Linked DNA regions of Homo sapiens. The protein of the gene in region 1 purifies or fractionates together with the protein of each later gene. This does not show direct contact. Each region holds a gene or a part of one and is shown in the gene's direction. Other genes may lie near its edges.

Evidence for each region. The genes of interacting proteins can lie anywhere in the genome.
Region 2: the proteins of HTR2C (region 1) and CAND2 purify together in Homo sapiens (co-immunoprecipitation; 3 studies listed by BioGRID and IntAct, with this or other methods). This does not show direct contact.

The regions. Positions count from the first base shown.
Region 1 is NC_000023.11:114,905,586-114,909,085, forward strand, and holds part of HTR2C (5-hydroxytryptamine receptor 2C isoform a precursor), read left to right. Parts: intron 1-1,003; coding exon 1,004-1,830; 3' UTR 1,831-3,500. UniProt on the Homo sapiens protein: G-protein coupled receptor for 5-hydroxytryptamine (serotonin).
Region 2 is NC_000003.12:12,827,680-12,831,179, forward strand, and holds part of CAND2 (cullin-associated NEDD8-dissociated protein 2), read left to right. Parts: intron 1-347; coding exon of another isoform or gene 348-410; exon of another isoform or gene 411-1,920; intron 1,921-3,500.

The DNA.
Region 1 (3,500 bases):
CCAGGATTCCTAATAATCTCTAATGGAACCCCACAAATACAATCTGAACTTCCCAGGCTTCGACTTCCTGTGGACACAAGACAGGACAGCAATCTCTATCTGTTATCTATTTATCTCTATGTATTGATGCAGGACCTCTTGAAGACCTACTGTGGTTATTTCTGAAAGCTTCCAGATATCTTACTTATGCTCAGGCACAAGATCACCTTCTGCTCCCACCTCCTCATTGATATTTCCTAACTATGGGCCTATTTATTGAAGGAAGTGCTTCCCTAGAGTACTACCTCTCAGTATTCTTAAAACAAAAATGCTCAAAATTCCACACAGAAACTGGAGGACTGCATATCTCCCAACTCTACATTTTACCCTCTCTTGACTTTGAAACATTGCTCATGCCCAGAGACTCAAAATAAAACAAACAAACAAAAACCCTTGCTAAAAAGAGAATCTTTTCAGTCTCTGCTTATTGACTATTTCTGCATAGTAGTTAGACTCAGCCCAGCCATCCCTAATAGGCTATTATTACTATTACAGGTGGTATTTGTCTCATTTTTATTGAATTTGGAAAATGATATGCTAAAGAAAGAATGATTGGCTTTATTAATGTCATCAAGTACAGATGTGAATTTATTCATTGATTCAACAAATATTTATCGAGTGCCTTCTCTGAGCCAGGACGATTCTTGGAACTGGAAATCCAACAAATCTGACACAATCCACCCTTTGACACAACCGTGTCTCTAATATAGTTAATATCAATAAGGGTAATTCCATGCCTTCTACAGAATTTAGGGAGAAGGCATTCCTAACATGAAAAACGCCATCATTTTCTGATGCCATACTGCTAGTGTTTCATGTGACTATCGATTATGCCGTGAATAGCTTTCAACAAATATCAGGTCTGAATTTCCTTCCGTAAAATGCAAATTAATGTATGCCGTTGAATACATCTGTTCAGTCCTTCAAGATGCTATAACAACCCCCTTCCTTTTTCTTCCTTTAGGTGTATCAGTTCCTATCCCTGTGATTGGACTGAGGGACGAAGAAAAGGTGTTCGTGAACAACACGACGTGCGTGCTCAACGACCCAAATTTCGTTCTTATTGGGTCCTTCGTAGCTTTCTTCATACCGCTGACGATTATGGTGATTACGTATTGCCTGACCATCTACGTTCTGCGCCGACAAGCTTTGATGTTACTGCACGGCCACACCGAGGAACCGCCTGGACTAAGTCTGGATTTCCTGAAGTGCTGCAAGAGGAATACGGCCGAGGAAGAGAACTCTGCAAACCCTAACCAAGACCAGAACGCACGCCGAAGAAAGAAGAAGGAGAGACGTCCTAGGGGCACCATGCAGGCTATCAACAATGAAAGAAAAGCTTCGAAAGTCCTTGGGATTGTTTTCTTTGTGTTTCTGATCATGTGGTGCCCATTTTTCATTACCAATATTCTGTCTGTTCTTTGTGAGAAGTCCTGTAACCAAAAGCTCATGGAAAAGCTTCTGAATGTGTTTGTTTGGATTGGCTATGTTTGTTCAGGAATCAATCCTCTGGTGTATACTCTGTTCAACAAAATTTACCGAAGGGCATTCTCCAACTATTTGCGTTGCAATTATAAGGTAGAGAAAAAGCCTCCTGTCAGGCAGATTCCAAGAGTTGCCGCCACTGCTTTGTCTGGGAGGGAGCTTAATGTTAACATTTATCGGCATACCAATGAACCGGTGATCGAGAAAGCCAGTGACAATGAGCCCGGTATAGAGATGCAAGTTGAGAATTTAGAGTTACCAGTAAATCCCTCCAGTGTGGTTAGCGAAAGGATTAGCAGTGTGTGAGAAAGAACAGCACAGTCTTTTCCTACGGTACAAGCTACATATGTAGGAAAATTTTCTTCTTTAATTTTTCTGTTGGTCTTAACTAATGTAAATATTGCTGTCTGAAAAAGTGTTTTTACATATAGCTTTGCAACCTTGTACTTTACAATCATGCCTACATTAGTGAGATTTAGGGTTCTATATTTACTGTTTATAATAGGTGGAGACTAACTTATTTTGATTGTTTGATGAATAAAATGTTTATTTTTGCTCTCCCTCCCTTCTTTCCTTCCTTTTTTCCTTTCTTCCTTCCTTTCTCTCTTTCTTTTGTGCATATGGCAACGTTCATGTTCATCTCAGGTGGCATTTGCAGGTGACCAGAATGAGGCACATGACAGTGGTTATATTTCAACCACACCTAAATTAACAAATTCAGTGGACATTTGTTCTGGGTTAACAGTAAATATACACTTTACATTCTTGCTCTGCTCATCTACACATATAAACACAGTAAGATAGGTTCTGCTTTCTGATACATCTGTCAGTGAGTCAGAGGCAGAACCTAGTCTTGTTGTTCATATAGGGGCAAAAATTTGACATTGTCAGAATGTTGTGTTGGTATTTACTGCAATGTCTGTCCCTAAACATAGTGGTATTTTAACATAGCAGCTGGTTAACCGGGACTACAGAAGTGGAAGGATAATGAGATGTAATACACCAAATAGCTTTTCACTTCTTAAGGACAGTGTTCAAATTCTGATTATTACAACAAGCAAACTGAAATTAGTGTTTTCATTCTGGTCCTTAGTAAATTCCTAATTCTATGATTAAACTGGGAAATGAGATCCCAGAGTTATTTCCCAACCCAGGATTCAACATCAATTGGGTTTTGATCTCAGCATCCTGGAAATTTGTGTGCTTCACACAAAGTGAAATTAGTATTTTGAGCCTTATTAAAATATTTTCTTAATTATGGTACCTCTGTCTATAGGACTTAATTTAGCAGTCCATTTTTGAGTAAAACTTGTATTGGAAGTATAGATGGTAGAAACTTTGGAAGTTTTACTTGATTAAGGACTACAGAATTGGGCCCTTAGAATGTGAAAAAAAAAAGTAATTAAAAAGACACTTTTACCGAACTCGGGATTACAGAAACACGGAGTTTCCATTTGGATTTTAAACAAAATTTATGTCATTTTCAGATCCTTCCAAACTCTCTAGTGCAGGAAAAGGCTGCAGCTAATTTGTGAAAGTGGCAAGCTCTTCATTGCACTGCAGTTATTTACCAGAAGTTTAAATCTTTGTTAAAATATAGTGTTGTGTTACAATAAGTGTTGGCCATCATTTCATTCGTGGGCCTGCTGCTCTCTAAGAATTCAGTAGCATTTTAATAGTTTCTAAACCATGAAAAGTTTTCAAGCATTGCTAAAGTCAGGCCATTCAGTCTATGCTGTGTGCAGAGTATACAAGTGTTTCTAGTAACAGTATTTCCATACGTGCCCATTTCACACAACTGTGGATAAATTTTGGAAGAATTCATGATGCTAGTTCTTACGCTTGACAGTTACTTACACACCTGAGAATGTGCCTCTCAGTATCTTAAAATTGGTTAATGAAAAATCTGAATTTCTAAAACCCTTGGTCTGTGTTCTCAACACACAGTATAGATAAATCCAATAGTCTGCCACAAG
Region 2 (3,500 bases), on another chromosome or scaffold:
TTTGTCCTTGCTCCCTACTCCAGGCACCCAATGAAAATAGCTGCATTGTTGTTTTCTGATAAGAAAAGGAACCTGTGTCTCAAACACCTTTGGTGGGAGTCTACACTGGGCAGGCTCTTTGGAGGATGGTTTCACAGCAACCAGAAAAAAAAAATTGTCCAGGTGTGGTGGCTTATGCCTGTAATCCCAGCACTTTGGGAGGCTGAGGCAGGAGGATGGCTTGAGCCCAGGAGGTTGAGGCTGCAGTGAAACATGATCACACCACTGCACTCCAACCTGGACGACAAAGCGAGACCCTGTCTCAAAAAAAAAAAAAAAATTCCCAGACGAAATTTTTGACCCTGCAGGGCACTTTCAGCTGTGGAATACTAGCAGCATTGAGGAGCGAGCTGCATCTCTTCGTGTTGTGACCTGAAAGAGCTCCAAGCCCCAATGTTGAGTGGCAAGAGCTAGTTCCAGAAGTTAGGACCATTTTCTTAACAGACAGAGTGAGTCTGGGGCTGGTGGAGACGTCGGTTTCTTCAATTTATATCTTTCTATATCATTTTTTTAAATGTTAAAGTTTATTCACATATATGATAGAAATCATTTAATTGTGGCGAAATATTAATAATACAAGTTACTATCTTCAGTAACTTACTATCTGCAGGTGAAGTGTTTTTTTTTTTTTTTTTTTGAGACAGGGTCTTGCACTGTCACTCAGGCTGGAGTGCAGTGGCTTGATCTCAGCTGACTGCAACCTCTGCCTCCCAGGTTCAAGCGATTCTCCTGCCTCAGCCTCCCAAGTAGCTGGGACTACAGGTGCCCACCACCACACTCAGCTAAATTTTTTTTGTATTTTTAGTAGAGACGGGGTTTCACCATATTGGCCAGGCTGGTCTCGAACTCCTGACCTCAAGTAATCTGCCTGCCCTGGCCTCCCAAAGTGCTGGGATTACAGGTGTGAGCCACTGCGCCAGGCTCCATCTTCACTATTTTAAAGTGCACAGCACAGTGGCAGTAAGCACATTCACATTGCGGTGCAGCCGTCACCACTGTCCATCTCAGAACTCTTTTCTCCTTCCCAAACTGAAAACTGCACCCATTCAACACTCTATGAATTTGACTACTCTAGGTTTCTGCCCTTGTAAGTGGAATCATACAGTATTTGTCCTTTTGTGACCAACTTGTTTCACTTAGTCTGATGTCCTCAAGGTTCATCCATGTTGCAGCATGTCAGAATTTCCCAGTGTTGTATGTACAGACCACCAGTTTGTTTACCCATTCATCCATCGCTGGACAAATATTTGGGTGTTCCCAGCTTCTGGCTATTATGAGTAATGCGACTGTGAACCTAGGTGTTCCGATATCCTTTGGAATCCTGCCTTCAGTTCTCTTCACTTTACCCAGAAGTGAAATTGCTGGATCATACGGCAATTCTGTGTTTAATGTCTTAAGGAACTGCTATACTACAACTTTATTTTTAAGTTTTTATTTATTTGTTTGAGATGGAGTCTCACTTTATGGCCCAGGCTGGAGTGCATTGGTGCAATCTTGGCTCACTGCAACCTCCGCCTCCCGGGTTCAAGTGATTCTCCTGCCTCGGCCTCTTGAGTAGCTGGGATTACAGATGTGCACCACCACGCTCGGCTAATTTTTATATGTTTTAGTAGAGACAGGGTTTCGCCATGTTGGCTAGGCTGGTCTTGAACTCCTGACCTCAGGTGACCCACCCACCTCGGCCTCCCAAAGTGTTGGGATTACAGGCATGAGCCACCACGCCCGGCCCCATATTACAACTTTAAAAAATATGTACTGTAAGCGTGAGTCACTTTTTATAAGGAAAAATTAATACAAAGTAATCAAAAGTAACCCATACTTGTTTTAAAAGATTTACACAAGATGAAAGCAAATAAAGAAGCAAGTAATAATCACCCAAAAGCTTCTCCACACCCAGAGAGGCCTGCTGTCTCAGTGTGTTTCTTGGGATGATGCACATAGACCCTCATTCATTAGTCAGCCAGTATTAAGTGAGTGCCAACACGCCAAGGTCAATGTGAGAGGTGGGGTCCCTGTTCTCAAAGCTGTGGAGATGAGTTTATGAGACCTGTTTTCTAGAAATGGGATCACACACATGCTGTTTTTTTCCCCAGCCTTTTAACTTACATTTACTGTATGTTGTTTGCTTTGCTTTTCAATATATATCAGTCCTGTCAACAGCTGCAGGAGTTCCCATTTCTGTTGCACTCACTGCTACACATGTATGTTATTTGCACATTTTCACAATTACAGACAATGCTGCTGTGAACACCCTGGTGCATTACTGTGACCCACGGTGTGATCGGTGGGCTTCTAGGGTGGAGTGCATGTTCCTGCTAAAGCATCCGATGCGCGTGGTGAGGCTGCACCTCCTGCAGCGGGCGTGCCTCTGACCACTCCAGACTTGGAGTTCCTGGGACGCTCCTTCCTGCACTTCCTGTCTGCCTGTCTCCCCCTCGGCTTTATTATTGCTTTAAACTCTTGCTTCCTGCCAACCCCCAAGAAAGAGAAAAGAAGAAACAACATAAGTTCTCTGGGATTCCAGCCCCAAGATCTTGGTTGAGAAAGGGGGTTGGGTTTTCCAGTGTATGCCATGCAAACTAGTGGAAAATGATGGGGCGCACAAAGCTGAACAGGACTTTCCACCACAGGGTTCCGGGAGGCTCCAGACGGGAGGGGTGTACTCAGCTTCCATCATCTGGGTGTGCCTGGTATTAGGCATCTTGTGGGGCTACTGACCCCAGGACACAGAGTGAGGAGTTCTGGGCCAGCCCAAAGCTCCACCTTGTGGGGATTTTTCTCCAGGATCGAGCAAGTCTGTTTCTTCCATCCAGTCTGGCCATATCCTCTCATGCCTGCCCTCCAGGAGCGCAGGACAGGGCCTAGGCACCAGTGCAGCCTTGGAGTCCACTCTGCTGCCACCCCCTGGGGTGAGGAGGGTGGGTGTTACAGCTATAGAGCCCACAGCTTTGCGTCATCAAGTCTTCAAGTGAGCCTTTAGAGAGGGAGTGAACACCGCCCAGTTCACAGGGGAGACGGAATCTTGTCTAGTTCTAGGGCACAGGGTCATGGAGTAGCCAAGAGTCATAGCTCCTGAAGTCCAGCACCGCTGCTCCTTGCTGCCGTGGGCTGGGCCTCCTCCTTTGCTGTGGGGCTTAGGGGTCAGGGTGTGGAGATGGGTAGGGCGTGGGGATTTCAGACAACCAGTCTTTATGGTGTGCAAGGCTTCTTTGTGAGGACTTGACTATTTTCAAAAGACAGGACAATTATTCCCCTACAGGCTGAATCTAGGCCTGCAGCCATGTTTAGTTGTTGTTAAAAGTTTTTGTTTGGTTTTGAAATCAGGTGTCAACATTTAAAAATCGAGACTTTTTTTTTACATGAAAATTGGGATTTCTTTTGAAAACAATCCAGTGGCCCCAAGCTACATGTTTGCACTCCCACCTGGCCACACTCAGCCAGAGCTGCCCCAGCAGCCCCCT